Linked DNA regions of Homo sapiens: all the other regions are linked to region 4. Evidence: fine-mapped expression QTL. A gene starts in region 4. Each other region holds a variant in brackets. All regions are shown on one strand. Distances are from middle to middle.

Region 1 (4,121 bases), 190 kb before region 4:
GGTGCCCAGCACAAAATGTTCTGGTAAAGCTACTGGAGTAAAGGAATGAATGGGTGGGGCACCTTGGAGGGAAATGGAGGTTTCTGGCTCTCTTTGTTACCACATTGCCTAGGAAAGTGTTTCTCTCAGCTCCCAGCATCACGGCTGGAGAAACATCTTACATGTTCAGCAACTGGCTCTGCCCTTCTCTCAGATGGAAGGTCTGACTCAGCCAGGGTCTGGGTCTTGGTCTTTAGTGGTAAAATGTTCTCTCTTACAACCTAGAGTCTTGGGGGTGATGGTCCCAAATACTGTGGGCAGGGAGGGAAAGGACTTCTGTGCTGGGGCAAGGATGCTGGACTCTAGCCTGCTACCTTGCTGTTACCAAATGTGCTCCTTTGTCATTTTGGGCCCATCTGAAGGGCTCCCGAGCTTGAGCCTCATGCAGCACCCAACCAGGATTTAGATAAGACGAAGACGATGTGTGGAGGGAAGCCCAGGGGTGGGCCTGCAGGAGATCCTAGGCACTTCAGGACAATGGGCATCTCCTGAGAGAGAACGTGCTCATGAGAAGAGGGTCCACACATACACTTGCGAAAGGCTTTCAGAGCCATGGTGGCCTGAAAACAGGGCCTTGGATCACCTCACTGGTGCCAGGAAGGAGGAAAGGGGAGGACACAACAGTCTACTTTCCACAGCAAAAAGCATCCACAGAGCCCCTCGCAGTGGTTCATGCGTCCATCTTCTTTACTACTCCTGGCTGCAGTGAAGGTCAGAAAATGTAGTCTCTCAGCTGGGCACATCACTGTCCCAGATAAAAATAGGGGTGCTGTTAGGAAGCAAGAGGCAGGCACTGACAGAGCAGCCTCTGCCGCCTCCACTTTTTCAGCTGCCCGACGTTCACACAGGCTGTTCCTACCCACCGGACACACGCCTCACATCCTCCAGGGACACCATCCCCAAGTGCCATCAGCTGCCACAGCCAACCCAAAGGCCTGATCTGCATGATGGGCGGCTCCCTCCCTCAGGTATCACGTGGCCATCTTCTCCAGCTCACCTGGTGGCCTTGTGAGCCATACACCTAAGGACAAGTCATCTCACCCAGCACCCTCCATATAAAGGACAGGGAAGGGACAGGACAACCCCAACAAAAACTCTCAGGAAAACTTCTGAACCACTGCTGTCCATAGCGATGATCAAATCCTGCTTATCGGAAATTCGAATCCCTTCTCTGGCACCGGAGTCAATTCCAGGTTAAATGGCAAGGTGGGGTCCCCCTCGTCCATGGTCTTTGTGATCCCTGGCACCTCTCCATGGGCTCTTCTGAAATGGGGAGTCCCCTTCTTCTTTTAGGAACCTGCACACCTCCTGTTGGTGTAGTTCAGGGGCCTGAAAACGACTTTAGGGGATGAGGATCCAAAGTCCCCATGTTCCTGTTTAGCAGACGGTGCTCTAGTGTTGCAGGTTGGGTCTGAGCCCCCTCTCCCTGCCTCTGACCACGCGGCCTCTTTCTCAGCTCCCGTGAGCTTCTGGGCACTGCTAAGGCTGGTACTGCCATGCAATGTGGGATCAGATTGAACCATGTGAAAGTACCGTTTAGCAGGACAAAAATGGTCAAATGGCAATAAGTTCCAATAATTCAACCTAGTACAAATGTTAACCTATTGCTGAGGGGGCTTCATTTGAAACTGGATTTGACACAAGGAGAAAATACAAGTCAAATATTTAAACAGTGGCCGACACATTGCAAGCAATCAATGAATAGTTATTG[A/G]TTCTATTATCAGTAGAATTATATTAATCAATAGAGTGATTGATAGACTCTATTATTGATATTGTCATTGAACACACAACATTAATCAATGTTATTGTGGAAAGTTTAACTGGAATTGGTGAAAGGTATTTTGGACTCCACATTGTCCTGGTTATTATTTCCTCTCCGCCATGTCCAGGGTTAAACAGTGCCACATTTAACCACAGTCTATAGCCACACTCAATAGCCAGTCTATCGAGACTGCACAAATTGAACTCTGTTATCTCAGACTTTGTCACATTTTTTCCTAGTTCATTCTGGCTGAACGTTAGACTCCTTTGGGGGTAATTTTTAAATGTTGAATCAGAGTCTTGGAGGTAAGGCTTGGATGTTAGTGTGATTCTAATACAGGGCAAGAATTAAGAACCACAGACCTAGCTGATATGTATAATCTATTATTCTTTTGTCTGGTCCATCAATGCTGGTGGAGGGCAGAGATGCATTCGCCAGAGCATCCAGGAGCACTCAGCAGGAGAGGTGGGGATGGTTGCTAGCTAACGTGGGGGTGACTTCTCCCTGGTTTTGCAAGAAGCTACCCCTGGGAGAGAACTATGGGCTAATGCAAAAGGTGACAGCAAGGCTATTCGGCACTCATTATATGAGTGTGTCTCAATTATTTATCCATTCTATTGTTGATGACATTGGGATTATTTCCAGTTTGGAACAATTGCATGGAACTACTATCCATGTCTATTTTTGTAGATATAAGCAAAATCTTTTATTACTACAGATTCACACATATATTTTTTCATTGTTACACTTCTTGATACATAAATTATCTGAAATATGGTCAATGGGACTGCCTTAAGGCTGGCTTCTGTATTCTTTTGACGTATTTCCAGTATTATTCAAGCACTTTCTTACTTTCTGACATAACAAAGTGCTCCAGACTTATTTTCTTTCTCCAGGCCTATAATTATCGATTTCTCCAAGAATATCTGACTCATTTCAGTGAAAAATGGTATTTGGAAACCAAGATTTGGGTTACTAGATAGACTCATTGCTGCTGTTATTTGTCTTTTTGGTAGGCAGAACTTGGAGGTGTGGATGGATGAGTGAAAGGGATATACCTAAAATCATGAATTTATAGTGATATTTCTAATTCAAATTTAATAAAATAGGGTTTTTCCTTTTAGTTTTTACTTGTACCTTCTTTTCCTTATAATGAAAGTCTTAGTTCTCAATATTAGTGTATTTACCCATTTGTTTTCTCTTATAATATCCACAATGTTTCTTGCTCCATAAAATAAATATAATCAGTATCTTGTGATTCCTCACTATGTAATTCGGTGCCCCTGAACTTCTTTGTGCCTCTCCTAAACACAGCATGCCTTTTAGATTTTGAAAAGTTTTATCACTTATGCCTTGCTCTGCAAATACATCTTTCGTGATTGATTTGTATGTTGATTCTGAAAATCAAACACAAATGACTAGCATTTTTGTTAGTGTGATGATGTGTTAAGTTGAATCATATGAAAATTATGGCAATTTCCTATGGTATAATTAGTCATTTTTATTAGAGAAACGTGCTTAAAAATAAGCTTATTTTCCTAGGTCGGTGAATGTTTGCTGTTCTATAGATAGTATTCCAAAGTTTAAAGTCAAACCTATTCCCTTCTTAAATGCTATTGATTACACAAGATTATACCAAGATTAGCTTGTTGTGTGTTTGTACCATAACTTTTACAGTTTTTTGTTTTGTCTGGAGAATCTGATTACCTTTTCATTTTTCTTTATAGCAGAGAGATCACTTGCCTTCTAAACCATATTTATAAGACATTTGAGCTTTTAATCATACTTGTTGAGTGCATTGATGTTTTAGCCAGGCACAGTAGTTTCTGCCTGTAATCCCAGCACCAGCACTTCGGGAGGCCAAGGTGGTAAGATCAGTTGAGGTCCAGAGTTTTGAGACCAGCCTGGCCAACACAGTGACACCTCGTCTCTACTAACAATACAAAAATTAGCCCAGCATCGTGGCGCACACCACACTTGTAATCCCAGCTACGCAGGAGGCTGACGTCAGCAAATAGCTTGAACGGGAGAAGCGAAAATCACAGTGAGCCAATATTGCACCAGTGCACTCCAGCCTGGGTGGCAGAGTAAGATCTTGTCTCAAAAGAAAAAAAAAAAACCGGGGACCTTCGCAGTGAGTGTTACAGCTCCTAAGCCAAGTGTTACAGCTCTTAAAGGTGGCATGGACCCAAACGGTAAGCAGCAGCAAAATATATCGTGAGGAACTAAACAACAAAGCTCCCACAGCGTAAGAAACAATCCTAGCAGCTTACCGCTGCTGGCTGGTGTGGGAGTGGGGCGGGTACAGCTTTTATTCCCT
Region 2 (4,121 bases), 670 kb before region 4:
CGCCTGCAATCCCAGCTACTCAGGAGGCTGAGAATCACTTGAACCTGGGAGGCAAAGGCTGCAGTGAGCTGAGAATGAAACACTGCACTCCAGCCTGAGTTACAGAGCAAGACTCTGTCTCAAAGAAACCCCAAAAAAGAAAAACAGAAAAACCCACACACCAAAGAACTTACTTATGTCATCCTGCTGTTTAGTTTCTACATAAAGTGTTTTGCTCCTCAGTACCTTCTTTTGTGTTTGGTTAATGATTTATCCTGTAATATTTTGATCCTTTCTTAGTTCCTTTTCTGTATATTTTTAAAGTTTTGTTTTTAGTGGATACTATGAAGATTTCAGTTAACATGCTGAGTTCTAAGTCTAGTTCAGACTGATACCAACTCAGCTTCAATAGCATACATTAACTCTGCTCCTTTCTCTGTCCCCTAGCTATATTGTTACAAATTATGTCTTTAAACAATTAGTTCCTATTAACATAGATGCATATTATTTCATGCATGTTTTTAAATCATAAAGGAGAAAGAGGAATAACATACCCAAAATACAATAATACTAGCTTTTATATTTAGCTATATAGTTGCCTTTACCAGTGATTTTTATTTTTTCATATAGCTCTGAGTTATTATCTTGTATCTTTTCATTTTAGCCTGAAGGACTCACTTCAGCTTTTTTTTTTAGCCCGAGTCTTGCTCTGTTGCCCAGGCTGCAGTGCAGTGGCACAATCTCTGCTCACTGCAAACTCTGCCTTCTGGGTTCAAGTGATTCTCCTGCCTGAGCCTCCCAAGTAGCTGGGATTACAGGCACGTGCCATCACACACAGCAAATTTTTGTATTTTTAGTAGAGATGGGGTTTCACCATATTGGCCAGGCTGGTCTCGAACTCCTGACCTCAGGTGATCCACCTGCCTCGGCCTCCCAAAGTGCAGGGATTACAGGCATGAGCCACTGTGCCCAGCCAAGCATTCTTTTTCTTTTTTTTTTTTTTTTGAGGTGGAGTTTCCCTCTTTTTGCCCAGGCTGGAGTGCAATCGGGTGTGACCTCGGCTTACTGCAACCTCTGCCTCCCAGGTTCAAGCAATTCTCCTGCCTCAGCCTCCCGAGTAGCTGGGATTACAGGCATGTGCCACCATGCCTGGCTAATTTTGTATTTTTTTAGTAGAGACAGGGTTTCTCCATGTTGGCCAGGCTGGTCTCAAACTCCCGACCTCAGGTGATCCACCCGCCTCGGCCTCCCAAAGTGCTGGGATTACAGGCGTGAGCCACCACGCCCAGACCAGGCCAAGCATTCTTATATTTTTATTCATTTATTATTTTTTTAGTGACAGGTTCTTGCTCTGTCAACCAGGCTGGAGTGCAGTGGTATGATCATACCTCACCGTAACCTCCAACTTCTGGTCTCAAACGATCCTCCTGTCTCAGCCTCATGAGTAGTTGGAACTACAGATGCACACCACCATGCCCAGCTAATTTTTTTAATTTATATTTTGTAGAGACGGGGTCTCACTATGTTGTCCAGGCTAGTCTTAAACTGCTGGCTGCAAGCAATCCTCCTGTCTCAGCCTCCTGAGTAGCTAGGACCACAGGCCAGAGCCACCTTGTCTGGCTAATTATTTTTATTTTGTAGAGATGGGGTCTCCTTATGTCGCCCAGGCTGGTTGTGGACTCCTGGCCTCAGGTGATCCCACTTCAGTCTCCAAAAGTGCTGAAGTTACAGGCATGAGCCACCATGCTGAGCTTCCCCAACCCTGTTTTTTTTTTTTTTTTTTTGAGATGGAGTCTTGCTCTGTCGCCCAGGCTGGAGTGCAATGGCGCCATCTCAGCTCACTGCAACTTCCACCTCCCAGGCTCAAGCAATT[C/T]TCCTGTCTCAGCCTCAGTCAGCTGGGACTACAGGTACATGCCACCATGCCCAGCACACCACCACTGCCTTCTATACTCCGTGATTTCTGATAAGCAACTGTTAGTCTTACTGAAGATCCCTTGTACAGGATGAATCACTTATCTCTTGCTGCTTTTCTGTCTTTAGCTTTCTACAATTTGATTATAATGTGTGTCAGTGTGGATCTCTTTGAGTTTATCCTGCTTTGAATTTGTTGAGCATCTTCAATGTGTAGATTCACAATTCCCATCAAATGTGGGATATTTTTGGTCACTATTTCTTAAAAAAATCTCTCTAGGCCAGGCACAGTGGCTCACACCTGTAATCCTGCACTTTGGGAGGCTGAGGTGGGAGGATTGTTTGAGCCTGGGAGTTCAAGACTGGCCTGGGCAACATGGTGAGACCTTGTCTCTCCAAAAAATACAGAAATTAGCTGTGCTTAGTGGTGGTATGTGCTATAGTCCTGGTGCCATATTCCCAGCTACCTGGGAGGCTGACTATAGCTGGTGCTATAGTCCCAGCTACTTGGGAGGCTGAAGGGGGAGGATTGCTTGAGCCTAGGAGGTAGAGGCTGCAGTTATCAATGAGCCATGAGATCACACCACTGCACTCCAATCTGGACGACAGAGCGAGACCATCTCAAAAAAAAAAAAAAAAAAAGATAGGGATGTATCTGCATGACTATGGATTAGGCAATGGTTTCTTACATACAACCTAAAGCACACCAACCAGAGGAAAAATAAATTATGCTTTCTCAAGATTAAAAAGGAGACTATCAAGAAAGCGCAATGACAACTAATAGATTGAGAGGAAATATTTACAAATTATATACATGATAAAGGTCAATTACCTAGAATATATATACTTCAAAGACTCATTTAGAGACAGGGTCATGCTATGTTGCCTAGACTAGTGTTGACCTTCTGGGCTCAAGTTATCCTCCTGCCTCAGCCTTCTGAGTAGCTGGGACCATAGGCCTATACTACCACAACTGGCTGTGGAGTATATAAAGAACTCTTACCACTCAATAATGTGGACAAAACCCAATTTAAAAATGAGCAAAGGCTTTAAATAGAATAAAAATGAAACATTTAAGATTGTTGAAAGTGGTTGCCTCTGGGGAGTGGAATATGGTGAGGCAGATGTCTGGATTGGAGGGGACGAGCTATTGTGAACAATAAACCTTGTATCACTATTTGGCTCTCTGGATCACAGTTCACAACAAGGGATGAATTTGCTCCACAGGGGACATTTGGCAATCTGAATATATTTGTCATTGTTATAACTGAGGGGTCTTCCTGACATCTAATATGTAGAGGCCAGGGATATTACTAAACATCCTACAAGGCAGAGAGAGCCCCCATAACAAAGAATTACATAGCCTAAAATGTCAATAGTGCTGAGGTGAAAAATTGTCTAAAGTATGTTTGAGGCTGGGTGCGGTGGCTCATGCCTATAATACTAACACTTTGGGAGGCTGAGGCAGGTGGAGCACCTGAGGTCAGGAGTTTGAGACCAGCCTGGCCAACATGGTGAAACTCCATCTCTACTAATAATAAAAAAATTAGTTGGGCATGGTAGCTCATGCCTGTAATCCCAGTTACGTGGGAGGCTGAGGCAGGAGAATTGCTTGAACCTGGAAGGCGGGGGTTGCAGTGAGCCAAGATCCCACCACTGCACTCCAGCCTGGGTGACAGAGTGAGATTTCATCTCAAAATAAATAAATAAACAAATGAAGTATGTTTGATAAAAATACAAATACAAGTCAATAAAAGTTATGTTAAAAAATTAAAAAATCATAAAACAATCTTTTGTACAATATCCACAGATTTACTTTTCTTTCTTTCTCTCTCTTTCTTTCCTTCCTTCCTTCTTTCTTTCTTGCTTGCTTTCTTTCTTTTTTTTTTTTTTTTTTTTGAGTTTCACTCTTGTTGCCCAGGCTGGAGTGCAATGGCACAATCTCAGCTCAATGCAACCTCTGCCTCTCAGGTTCAAGCGATTCTCCTGCCTCAGCCTCCTGAGTAGCTGGGATTACAGGCATGTGCCTGCTTAGTGGGGGTATAAGCCCTCCTTACCAAGTAGAGAAAAAGGGGAGAAAATCACATTGCTAAAGCAATTGTGTTAAGCCCCATATTATCTTTACTTGTGGAAGAATGCAGCTTTGACCTATTATTCGACACTTAGCACATATAAAATTTTAGGCCTTAGCTTTCAGTTCCTCAGATCGTAGCAAATTGAAGTGTTAGGCT
Region 3 (4,121 bases), 520 kb after region 4:
CAGGAACTGAATTGATCTTAGACTTCCCAGCCTCCAGAACTGTGCAAAATAAGTGTCTGTTATTTAAGCCACCTATTTATGGTATTTTGTATGTCAGTCTGAAAAGACTAAGACATGTTGGTGAATAGCTGCTGCATCCCCAACACCCAGGAGCCTCCCCTGGGGCCCCACAGACACCCTGCCATCCAGCACTAAGGGTTGAGGCCTGGCCCTGCAGGGGCCGCTACTCGAGCTCTGCTCCACCCCTGCAGACAGCACCCATTCAGGTGAGTGGGTTGTGCTGCACCAGTTGTTAAATATTCTGAGCACCACTTGTGGTGGATTTAAAAACAGCCCCCAGATTCGTTGACACTCTTCTCATTGACAGATTGGGTCTGTGTCCCCTTTCCTTGAAGCTGGGGTGGCTTGTGGTGTCTTCAACTGATAGGGCACCGGGGAAGTGATGCCATGTGACTCCTGACGCTAACTCACAGAAGGCAATGTGGTGTCCTTCTTGTCCACTGGGAGACGGTGGAGCCCTACCACTTGCTACCCTGAGGCCACCTTGCTGGAGAAGCTACGTGTAGGAGCGCAGGGGACAGTCCCAGTTGAGCCTGGCCTTCCAGCCATCTCACCAGGGGCCCAACATGTGAGTGAAGAGGCATCCAGATGGTTGCACCCCTCTGCCCTAGAGTCACCCCAACCTTCAGGTCTTCCCAACTGAGACTGAGTCGTCTTACTTGTTGGGTCAGAGACAAGCACCTTGCTGTGCCCTCCAGAACTGCTGACCCACAGAATCTGTGAACATTATACATGAGGATTTTATGCTACTGGCTCTGGGGTGGTTCGAAAGGCAGCAGTTGTAACTGGGAGCCCACCCTGTATAGAAATGTGAGGAAACTGAGGCTCAGAGAGAGAGTAAGTGACTCAGTCACTGATATAGTTTGGATATCCCCTCCAAATTTCATGTTGAAATGTGATCCCCAGTGTTGGAGGTGGGGCCTGGTGGGAGGTGTTTAGGTCAGGGGGCAGATCCCTCATGGCCTGATGCTGTCCTCACCATCTTGAGCTCTGACAGGATCTGGCTGTTTAAAAGTGTGTGGCACCTCCCCCCACCTCTCTTGCTCCCACTCTCGCTACGTGATGTTGGCTCCCCCTTCACCTTCTGCCATGACTGTAAGGTCCCTCCAGAGGCCTCCCCAGAAGCTGAGCAGATGCCGGCACCATGCTTCCTATATAGCCTGCAGGACTGTGAGCCAATTAAACCCCCTTTTTAAATAAATTACCCAGACTCAGGTATTGCTTTATGGCAACACAAGAATAGCCTAACACAGTCAAAGTCATGGAGCTGGTGCAGGGCAGAGCCAGAATCTGCCTCCCGTCCAAGTGAATTCAGAGCCCACGCTATTCCCATCTCCCTGATCAGGCTGGTTCCTGGGCACACGCTTACCCCTCAGGGCCACTTGAGGGGAAGTTTGCAAACTGGAGCATGTTCAGGGGTGATGGCCCCAAACAGGCTCCAGGAGGGACCACTGAAGGGACTGGGGACACTGGGCTTTGACAGAGGTCATCGCAGAATTTGTGGGCCTTCTTCAGATATCCAAAATGTTGTTACTGGGAGGGAATAAGTGTTGTGGCCCTAGATGGCAGAGGTGTGGGCTTGATGCGGCTGATTTTGGTTCAGGTAAAACAAGAACTTTGCTGGTCACATCCATTGGAAAAAGATTGGGCTGTCAAAGGACGCAGTGAGTCCCATCTTTGGAGGCAGCCAAGTGCACCCGGAGTACTCAACTGCACCCTGAGTATCACCAGTACACCCTGAGTACCCAAGTGCACCCCAAGCACACCAAGGACCACCCCTGGGTGGATGCCAAGGGGGTAGTCAGGCCACAGGTCGGAACAGCACCAGCTGACTTTAAATCCCTCTCTAACCCTGAGATACAAGGATGTAGCCTACACATCAGGAGGTGAATAGAATCTACCCTCATTTGCAAGAGTTGTCCCCAGGGCAGCGGTGGCTGCAGCCCATCCAGTGTTCCCACTGGGAGATGCCCACGAGGTGCTCAGGTACAGCCCATCCAGTGTT[C/T]CCACTGGGAGATGCCCACGAGGCGCTCAGGCTTCGTGGCTCCCCAAAGCTCTGTTTCTGACAAATTAAATTGGTCCTACACTGGTCCCTGCTAAACATCCAAAGATACTTTGAGTTGAATACAAATCTTTATTATTTTGAAAACCACAGCAAAGGCACTTCAGAATCTCCAGGTACCCAGTCTCAGTTGCCGTTCAGTGGGGACAAGAGTGGTGCTGAGGGCATGGTCACACCCTTCTGTGCTGCATGCAGAGGGGTGCAAGGCCAGGGCAGCTGACCTGGTCAGCCACCAGGGGAGCCCACGCCTCTTATAACACAGTGTCCTTGGGTCAGGAATTTGTAGTTTATTTTGTTATTAAGATGGCGAGAGAATTTTTCGTCCATTTAGAGCCTAACATTTTTAGATGAATGTTAATGGCATCTCGGTTGGGATGGATTCGTGTTCATTTCTCAGCTGCTGAAGGATGTGTGTTCTAAAACAAAAGGGCTCCCAGCCAGCTCTCCGGCTGCATGATAGAGAAGTGTTTTGTAAGACGCTTGTTAAAAACCCATATTCCCTGGCCCCTCTTGTGGAGACCCTGTTTCAGTAGATGGGAATGGGGCTGGGGTCTGTATAACCTGTGCCCAGGAGACTCTGTGACCAGCTTGGGAAGCTCCTGCAGGGAGGAAGGAATGATCCACAAGTCCCCAAGCCCTTCATGCTGAGGCATCTGTCTGGCTGGAGAAACACTAAGGTTGGCATTGTGCTCACACTGGGAAATGACCTGGAGGAAGTTGGGAAGAGGAGTCCAGGCCGGTTCCACCCTCTGGGTCAGAAACCCGGCTGGAAAGCACTGGAAATAGGGAAATAGAAGACCGAAAGGCTGGGACCCCCCTCACACCCAACCTGCGTCCATGGCCGAGGTTGAGTGAGGAGTCCTGGAGACTCTGGCTTCATGGTCTTTGCTCTTGTTCTTCTGTGCCTCAGGGGTCGCTGCCCACCAGGCTCAGCAGGGCGTTCTTGTAGTCGCCGCTGGTGTCTTCCTGTGGGTAGGAGGCGCATAAGCGTGAGAAGGGGTTTGTTTGTGCCTGGCTCGGCAGTGGCGGCTGTGTTATTATGACTAAGAGGTGTGCCCCTGGCCTGCACCTGGCCCGGCCCTCCAGGGTTCCTAGCCGCAGGGGTTGTGCCATCACCCCTCTTTCCTGGTTTTTAATTTCAGGCTATTCCTTTACATTTCCTTTTGATTCTCTTACCAACTACATGCAGGATTGATGTGGAAAATGAATCAGAGACAGTTCCACTCCTAAACAAGGAAGGGGTCAGCTGTCCCAGGGTTCTTCTATTCGGGAGCCAGGGTGCCCAGCCATTCATTTACACAACACGATGCATCATTATTCAACACCTGCTGTGGCAGCTTGGGAATCAAGGCTGAGAGTGAGGCATCAGCACACACCTGGGAGCAGGGCCGGGGGTGGAGGGAGCCTGGACCATCGCACCCTGACGGTGTGGCCGAGGCAAGCCCCTTCACCTCTGTGGGACTCATCTATGAAATGAGATCAATGCTGTGCTGCTGTGCATCTTGCTGAGACGTGGTGAGGGTACAGCAGGAGGAAGGCGAGCTGGTCTGCCCTGCATCTGGCTCACATCGGGTCCACAGTGTTTGTCTCCTGATGAGACTGACCTTGTGGTCCGATGACTGAGGAGCCCTGTTTCTTAGATACTGGTAGGTCCTGATGGGACTGGCTAGTCCGGGGTCTGCATACAGAGCTGGGAAATGGGCCAGGTCAGATCACCCAGATTCTTCTTCATGCAGTTGAGGACAGCGGGGCCAAGAGAGGGGAGTGAATTCATTCACAACGGCATGGTGAGTAAGGGGTAGACTGGGGCTAGACCCACTTTCCACACTCTGGACCAGTTTAGGTCTCATGGTTATTGTCTACTTTTCACCATTTAGTAAAATTTGCCTGCTTTGAGCCTGAAATCTCATTACGGGTTTCAAACTACAATGAAATTTTTTTAACTTTTTCCTTTCTAGACACGGTCTCACTCTGTCACCCAGGCTGGAGTGCAGTGATG
Region 4 (4,121 bases):
AGATTCTGTAGATTACCAGTACATCAGATCCAATATGAAATGCAGTCATAAAAGATTTTCACAAAAACTTAAGGACTGTCACTGTGACAAACCCCAGCCCAAACAGTCCAGGACAATGGCTCTAAAAAGCAAACATCTTCAATTATCAAGCTGTGTACATGTAAACACAACAGGAACCAGACTTCTGAGTAGCTGCAAACTGCAGTTCTCTGTGATGGGAGAACATGCCCCAGAACAGCCTGTCAAGTGGTAATTGCCAGCCATCCTCAGTCACATATGTATAAACAGAAAAGAAAAACAAAACGAGGGCTCAAATAAAAAGCGTTAACATTCATTAAACGCCTGACACTCTATTAAATGTTTTTCATGCATTACCTTCTTTAATCCTCACAACACCCTTCCAAAGTTGAACATGAAACAACCACACTGGTTTATATCACTTTAAATGTAAGACTACACGTCTCAAATGGGCCCTGAGCACTGCCTGGGAATCCAACTCTATTTCTCTAGTACGCTCACTTTCACCCTCTCTAGGACTCTGTCACATATCTCTCCTCCAAGTTCCCACACCTTTCCTCTCCCCCGCTGCCCTCCCTCTAAGCTGATGGATGCCTATACCAATAGACTCTTTTCCCACCACCCACTGTATCTGCACCTGTTATCTCAGCTTCCCCTCTAGTTACAACAGAGTAAGTGTCCCTGCTCATTTCAAAACCAACTACTCACCTGCTTAGGGTCTTCTCCTTTCTCAGGTATTCAACAACTACCCTTTACAATGTTCCCCTCTTTCATCTGCAGCAGTTTTTCCTTTCTACGAGTTTAATCACATTGCCATATAAACATTCTGCTTTCTTCTATCTTGAAAAAAACTCTACCCAACCTTAAGGCCCCTCTTCCCCATTAAAGTTGTTCTTGTCAAAATGATTAAAATCCTCCTAATTACCAAAGTCATCTTATACGGTAACATTCAACATGGTTGACCACTACCTCCCTCCCTTTTTTGGCTTCGCCTCCTCTTCTTTGTGTACACTATTAAACTAGATGTCTTCACCAGTCCCATATATTTTAAATACTATGTACAGTATATGATGCCGATTCCAAAGGTTAACTCTAGCCCGACATCCTCCAGAACTTCAGATTTAAATTTCTAAAAAGCACATTTGATATCTCAACCCAAATATCTACTAGATAATTTATGTGTGTATATTTCACCATACTAAAAAAAACTACCAGGTGACTGATAAATGGAGAGAAGGTGAATAGGTAATGTGAAAAATCAAATGTGCTAAATATTCATGGCACCTGTAGGTGGTAGGTGGTCAGAGTCCTCTGCAAAATTCTTCCCAGCTATGCTTATGTCTTCTATTGGGAAAAACCTACTGGGCATCTCAAACCTAACACATTCAAAACATAAGTACTGATTCCACAACTTCCAAAAATGAAACCTACCCCATCCTACAGTTTTCCTTGAGTCAAGGCTAGCATATGAGGGCCTTGGCATATGGGGGCATTGCCTATCGCGTTCATAGATATTCTGAGCTTCTAGAACAGCATCTGGCACACAGGAGGCGTTCAAAATAGCTGCTGAATGGATTGATGAATTCATGTTCTTTCTTTCTAGGTCCCTCGACCTCCACCCGCCCTTGAGTCATTGGGAAGTTCTGGGCTGTCTCAGCGCCTGATGATGGCTTCTTACCAATCATACCACACGGCTGCTCCTCAGGGAGTTGGTGGCATTCCCCTACCACAGAGCCACAGGGTTCCTGTCCCGGTCCCGTCTCGCATAGGCGCCCCAACACGCGTCACAGTGCAGCTGGCATCACACGGCCAGAATCACGTCCTGCCCTCTGGCTGCAGCGACACTACTTCACAGCTCAGGCCCACCCGGGCAGTCTCCCGGGCCAGGGCCACAACCCACGCCTTGTGACCCCTGCACGTCAACGGCATCTTCCTTCTTCACGCCCGCCCTCCCACAGCCCGGCGCAGCGGCCTCCCGCACGCCCCCTGCCCACCTGGCCCCCAGCCACCTTTCCTCACCTGGGCCTGCGGGGCCGCCCCAACTGTCCCGCTGCAACCCCAGCAGCCTCGCCAGTTGGGTCCACGCCTAGCCTGCCGGCCTTCGTCGCTATCCAATCCCACCTGCGCCCGCGAGCCTGCGCACTGGAGCTTTGCCCTGCGCCGCGGCACTCTGCCCTGCGCCGCGGCCCTCTGCTTGCCAGGCCGGGAGAGACAGAACCTGCCTCTACCGGTCTTCCAAGGCACTGAGAGCCCATCGCCGCGGACGCCGCTGTAAATTCCCTGCGGGCCCTGTGCACCACCCTGTGCGGGTCCCCCTCTCCCAGGCCAGGCTGATAATGTCAACAGCTCTCTGAGCTATGCTCATATCCTGAACCACTGAGGACTGTGTTCTCCAGGAATGCTCGCCTGACCCACGCCTGCCCTCTAAGCCCCTAATGAGGCCCCAGAGGGCTGGGGTGGGGGGGTCTCTTTGTAGTATCAGAGCAGGGCAGATAGGCAAAAGGAGTCAGAGCCTGTGCCAGAATATGAGGTCAGTTGGCTGCTAGGTCAATTAAGACAACTTCAGCAAGGGTGGTCAATGTAGAGGGAATTCAATCGTTGGCATTGCCTGAAAACAGGAAGCCAGAATCTTTTTATCTTGACGAACAAACCTCTATTCATTGGTCCTGACCTGAGCCACTTTGGTGAATCCAGATACCCTGAAGGTGTGACAAGACCTGCCTCACTTATCCCCCAGCCTTCAGTGCTGGTCCCACAGAGAGCCATATGCTTGAGCTGAACTGCAGTTAAGCAGTGACAGCTACCCTCTGTCCAGGCTCTGAGGCCAGCCTTCTGCTCCGTGAGTCACTGACAGTGAGTCTCTACAGAGACTTTTTCTTTCTGTAGCAGCCAAGGTACCCTGCAAGCAACCCACGCCATTGCCATATGTCTTAGTTTGTTTGTGTTGCTATAAAGCAATACCTGAGGCTGGGTAATTTATAAAGAAAAGAGGTTTGTTAGTTTCACAGTTTCACAGGCTGTAAAAGAAACATGGCACCACCACCCGCTTTTGATGAGGGCCTCAGGAAGCTTCCACTCATGGCAGAAGACAAAGGAGAGCCAATGTGTGCAAGACAGAGGAAGAGAGAGAGGTGGGAGGTGCCAGGCTCTTTTCCATGACCAGTTCTCATGAAAACAAAGACTAAGAACTCACTCAGTTCCATGAGACTAGCACCAAGTCATTCATAAAGGATCTACCCACATGACCCAGACACTTCCCACCAGGCCCCACCTCCAACATTGGGGATCAAATTTCAACACTAGATTTTATTTATTTATTTATTTATTTTGAGATGGAGTCTCGCTCTGTCGCCCAGGCTGGAGTGCAGTGGCGTGATCTCAGCTCACTGTAATCTCCACCTCCCCAGTTCAAGTGATTCTCCTGCCTCAGCCTCCCCAGTAGCTGGGACTACAGGAGCATGCCACCATGCCTGGCTAATTTTTGTATTTTTAGTAGAGACGAGGTTTCACTGTGTTGGCCAGGCTGGTCTTGAACACCTGACCTCAGGTGATCCGCCCGCCTCAGCCTCCCAAAGTGCTGGGATTACAGGCATGAGCCAACGCACCCAGCCCAACATTAGATTTAGATGGGACAAATATCCAAACTATATCACCAGGGTAAGATTCCCCTTTAAAGATGGACCCCATGTCTAATGTTTCTTCATAGTGCCTAACATCAAGATTCTGCACTGGTCATCATTTCACAAACATGAGCAGCATGGCTGCTCCAAGACACACAGAGGGAATAACCCCCATTCACATCACCAGGAAATCCTTGCATGGAGGCTAAATGAACAGTTGGTAAGAGTGGACCCTGAGGTGTCATTCCATCTCCCCCAGACTTCCTGCTTGACCACACAATATTCCCAGAAGCCAGTGACCCAGAAGGCTCTTCTTGGCTTTCTGTCCTTTTACCTGTGAAAAATTCGAAGAACTATAAAGTTTAGGGCCCATCACAGTTTACTACCCTTCTTTGGAGGCCTCTTTAAACCCTTGAGTCTTACCAATTACCAGTAGCACTAGGAGCTTTGCAAGCCTGGCCTTAAGTCCCTGCTTTGCTACTG
Region 5 (4,121 bases), 95 kb before region 4:
GGAATGATCATTGTGCTCTAATGTCATAGCAAGTGGCATGCCACCTAGCTCTGGGGGTGGCAGTCGGTGCCAGAGGCCCTGTCATTGTCTTCCCTAGAGGCCATAAGAACTCTCATGGAAATAAGTTGACCCCACAGGTATGCCAGCCCAGACATCCTGGTGAGGCCCCAGCATGCCCCAGTTCTCAACGGCAAGCAGCTCGGGAAGTACCGAAAGGACCCAGGCACCATTTAGTTTTGTAAGGCCATTCAGTAAAGCTCAGGCTCTTGGAAAGCCAGCCTCTTTGATTCAGTCCTTTGTTGCTACTCGCTTTAATGTTTACCTCATTTTCTGCTTCATGCAGCCAGAATTACTGGTAAATAAGCCCTTCAGCAACCGTAGAGTCTTGTGCTCTGCTGGAGATGTATATGCTTGGAGAATGAAATACTGTGAACATACATATTTCAGTTTGGACTGTGAAATGCCTTCTATACATCTGATTTGTAAGAGAGATGGTTCTGATCGCTAACATCTCAGTGGTGATCCTGAGGAGAAAGGCTTGACAGAATTTTAAAGGTGCTCTATGGAGTATAATTAACCAAATCCACCCCCCCTCCGTATCTGAAAAAGAATTCTGGCAGTGTTACCAGTGAGGAAGATAGGTTCTTTTGCATAAAGGGACGTTTAGTTGTTTCCCTGGGGTTATTATTTCCAAGCCTGGCTGTGTGATGGACTCAGTTTCCCCAGTTGCATTCCAATCCATTCTTCAGACCAGTCCAAAACAGTACTTAACTTATAGGAGAGAAACAGTGTTTTACCATAAAATGTGCTTCTGTTGTAAGTTTGCTGTAGCTATGCCCTAGCAGATTAAGGTAATTCCCTTCTATTCCAAGTTTACTAAAATTTTTTATTTTTAAAATATAGAATGGATATCAAATTTGATTCGAATTTTTTTTCTGCATCTATTGAGGAATGGCTCTTGGGAACAATATTTTCTGAGCTCTTGCATGTTGATTTCAATTTTCACCCTGTGCATCAAGGTCAGTTTTTCTAGACATAACATATTGGCTCATAAAAATCTTTCCTTGGACATCTTATTATTCCATCTTCTTTTGTATTAAAGCATTACTCTTAAAAATCTGATAATCATCTAATTTTCTTTTCCTCATATTCTTTTGCGTAAATCCTCCCCCCTCCCCATTTTCTTTCTTCAAACTGCAGCAATTTTACTTAAAATTTATTAAACCTTGGTATTGGTCATACTCATTTGATGGTTTCAGGTATGTACTATGATACTTCAACATATAATTTTAAAAACAATTATTTCAGGAAAATTTTCTTTAATTATTACTCTAAATATTTCTTGAATTAGTGAATTTGTTCTGAACCCTTGCTTTGGTTTTTCTTCTTTAAACTTTCTGTTATCTATCTACTAGTCTTCTTTACCTATCATTGATCCTTCTTATGCTCTTAAATCCTGTTTTCTTTCTCCATTTTGTTTTGAAATTATTCCTCTTAAGCTTTCTATTTATTGTAAAGCATCAGTTATCAATTTTTTTGTGTTCCTTCTAGTTTATAGATTTTATTTCTAATTTTTGTTTCTAACTCTTTCTTGATTTTCATACTGCTTTAAATTTTTCTAGTTCTGATTTTTGTTATTCCATCCTGTTTTATGCAATTCTCCTATTGTCTTTAAGCTCATTTTGAAATAGTAGGATATC[G/A]TTTTCTGTGACTTCCCGAGCTGCTTGCCATTGAGAACTGTGTTTTGAGTGTATCTTTCTGGTGTACCTTCATTGTTTGTAAGGGATGCTATTCAGCTCCTCAGTCTTTTTTTTTTCTTATGGTAACTTGTACGGGATTTGATCATAATATTTTCTAGTGCTTGTTTCCATGTGAATTTGGATTTCCTGAACTAAACTTGACTTGGACAGACAGCTCTTATAAGTTCACTGAGCTTGCTTTCTGAGGTTTTCTGGCTCTATTCTCCTCAATCACTTTTATAGGATCTTCTCTTTTCTTTATCCCATTCTCTCCATTCTCTCCTCAACTTTGATTCTAAGGTTTCTCCTCAGTGTGACTCTGTTCTGGAAAGGAGCCCTGGCTGGTCACCTTTTAGAGCAGATAAGAGCTACACTGCTCTAACCCCTTCAGGCCCTACCATGTACTCCTCGCACTTTTCCACTTTGAAGGTGAAATTAAAGGGATACAAAGAAATGGAAGAACATTCCATGCTCATGGGTAGGAAGAATCAATATCGTGAAAATGGCCATACTGCCCAAGGTAATTTATAGATTCAATGCCATCCCCATCAAGCTACCAATGACTTTCTTCACAGAATTGGAAAAAACTACTTTAAAGTTCATATGGAACCAAAAAAGAGCCCGCATCGCCAAGTCAATCCTAAGCCAAAAGAACAAAGCTGGAGGCATCACGCTACCTGACTTCAAACTATGCTACAAGGCTACAGTAACCAAAACAGCATGGTACTGGTACCAAAACAGAGATATAGATCAATGGAACAGAACAGAGCCCTCAGAAATAACGCCACATATCTACAACTATCTGATCTTTGACAAACCTGAGAAAAACAAGCAATGGGGAAAGGATTCCCTATTTAATAAATGGTGTTGGGAAAACTGGCTAGCCATATGTGGAAAGCTGAAACTGGATCCCTTCCTTACACCTTATACAAAAATTAATTCAAGATGGATTAAAGACTTAAACATTAGACCTAAAACCATAAAAACCCTAGAAGAAAACCTAGGCATTACCATTCAGGACATAGGCATGGGCAAGGACTTCATGTCTAAAACACCAAAAGCAATGGCAACAAAAGCCAAAATTGACAAATAGGATCTAATTAAACTAAAGAGCTTCTGCAGAGCAAAAGAAACTACCATCAGAGTGAACAGGCAACCTACAAAATGGGAGAAAATTTTTGCAACCTACTCATCTGACAAAGGGCTAATATCCAGAATCTACAATGAACTCAAACAAATTTACAAGAAAAAAACAAACAACCCCATCAAAAAGTGGGCAAAGGACATGAACAGACACTTCTCAAAAGAAGACATTTATGCAGCCAAAAAACATACGAAAAAATGCTCACCATCACTGGCCATCAGAGAAATGCAAATCAAAACCACAATGAGATACCATCTCACACCAGTTAGAATGGCAATCATTAAAAAGTCAGGAAACAACAGGTGCTGGAGAGGATGTGGAGAAATAGGAACACTTTTACACTGTTGGTGGGACTGTAAACTAGTTCAACCATTGTGGAAGTCAGTGTGGCGATTCCTCAGGGATCTAGAACTAGAAATACCATTTGACTCAGCCATCCCATTACTGGGTATATACCCAAAGGACTATAAATCATGCTGCTATAAAGACACATGCACATGTATGTTTATTGCAGCACTATTCACAATAGCAAAGACTTGGAACCAACCCAAATGTCCAACAATGATAGACTGGATTAAGAAAATGTGGCACATATACACCATGGGATAGTATGCGGCCATAAAAAATGATGAGTTCATGTCCTTTGTAGGGACATGGATGAAATTGGAAATCATCATTCTCAGTAAACTATCGCAAGGACAAAAAACCAAACACCGCATGTTCTCACTCATAGGTGGGAATTGAACAATGAGAACACATGGACACAGGAAGGGGAACATCACACTCTGGGGACTGTTGTGGGGTGGGGGGAGGGGGGAGGGATAGCATTAGGAGATATACCTAATGCTAAATGACGAGTTAATGGGTGCAGCACACCAGCATGGCACATGTATACATATGTAACTAACCTGCACATTGTGCACATGTACCCTAAAACATAAAGTATAATAATAATGAAATTAAAAAAAAAAAAAAGAAAGTGAGCAATGCCCATCCAGTTTCAGACGCCATCCTCAGCTTAGCCCCACCACACCTCCTAGTAAATATCTGTTGGATCTTTAGGCTGTGTTCAGGTCTATCAGTTGGTAAATAAAACGGGTCCTTCACCAGAGTTTGAGAAGCATTGCTGAAGGAATCAGCAGAGGGAGAGATGAGTGTTAGAAGGCTTCATAGAAGAGATAGTTCTTAGGCCAGGCCCTGGAGGGCAATCAGGGTTGAAGTGAATGTTGAAGTTCCTC

Evidence for each region. PIP is the estimated chance that this variant, and not a neighbour inherited with it, causes the effect. A credible set is the group of variants that fine-mapping cannot tell apart.
Region 1: its variant is the best candidate, but not a certain one, in a credible set for the expression of PTPN20 in whole blood (TOPMed, PIP 0.82).
Region 2: its variant is the best candidate, but not a certain one, in a credible set for the expression of PTPN20 in testis (GTEx, PIP 0.51).
Region 3: its variant is the best candidate, but not a certain one, in a credible set for the expression of PTPN20 in kidney cortex (GTEx, PIP 0.73).
Region 5: its variant is the best candidate, but not a certain one, in a credible set for the expression of PTPN20 in blood mononuclear cells (TOPMed, PIP 0.75).

The regions. Positions count from the first base shown.
Region 1 is chr10:47,096,081-47,100,201 of GRCh38, reverse strand. No RefSeq gene overlaps it. Among named protein-coding and RNA genes, the nearest start is that of PTPN20, 190 kb to the right of the region's middle. The variant A/G (reference allele first, on the strand shown) is at 1,751.
Region 2 is chr10:47,574,867-47,578,987 of GRCh38, reverse strand. It overlaps a transcript of ANXA8 not described here. Among named protein-coding and RNA genes, the nearest start is that of LINC02675, 43 kb to the left of the region's middle. The variant C/T (reference allele first, on the strand shown) is at 1,853.
Region 3 is chr10:46,389,838-46,393,958 of GRCh38, reverse strand. ANXA8L1 (annexin A8 like 1) reads right to left here. Exons shown (of 12, transcript NM_001098845.3): 12 at 2,181-3,088. The coding sequence ends at 3,029. Among named protein-coding and RNA genes, the nearest start is that of LINC00842, 6.5 kb to the left of the region's middle. The variant C/T (reference allele first, on the strand shown) is at 2,066.
Region 4 is chr10:46,909,418-46,913,538 of GRCh38, reverse strand. PTPN20 (protein tyrosine phosphatase non-receptor type 20) reads right to left here and starts at 2,111. Exons shown (of 11, transcript NM_001042357.5): 1 at 2,038-2,111.
Region 5 is chr10:47,004,845-47,008,965 of GRCh38, reverse strand. No RefSeq gene overlaps it. Among named protein-coding and RNA genes, the nearest start is that of PTPN20, 95 kb to the right of the region's middle. The variant G/A (reference allele first, on the strand shown) is at 1,701.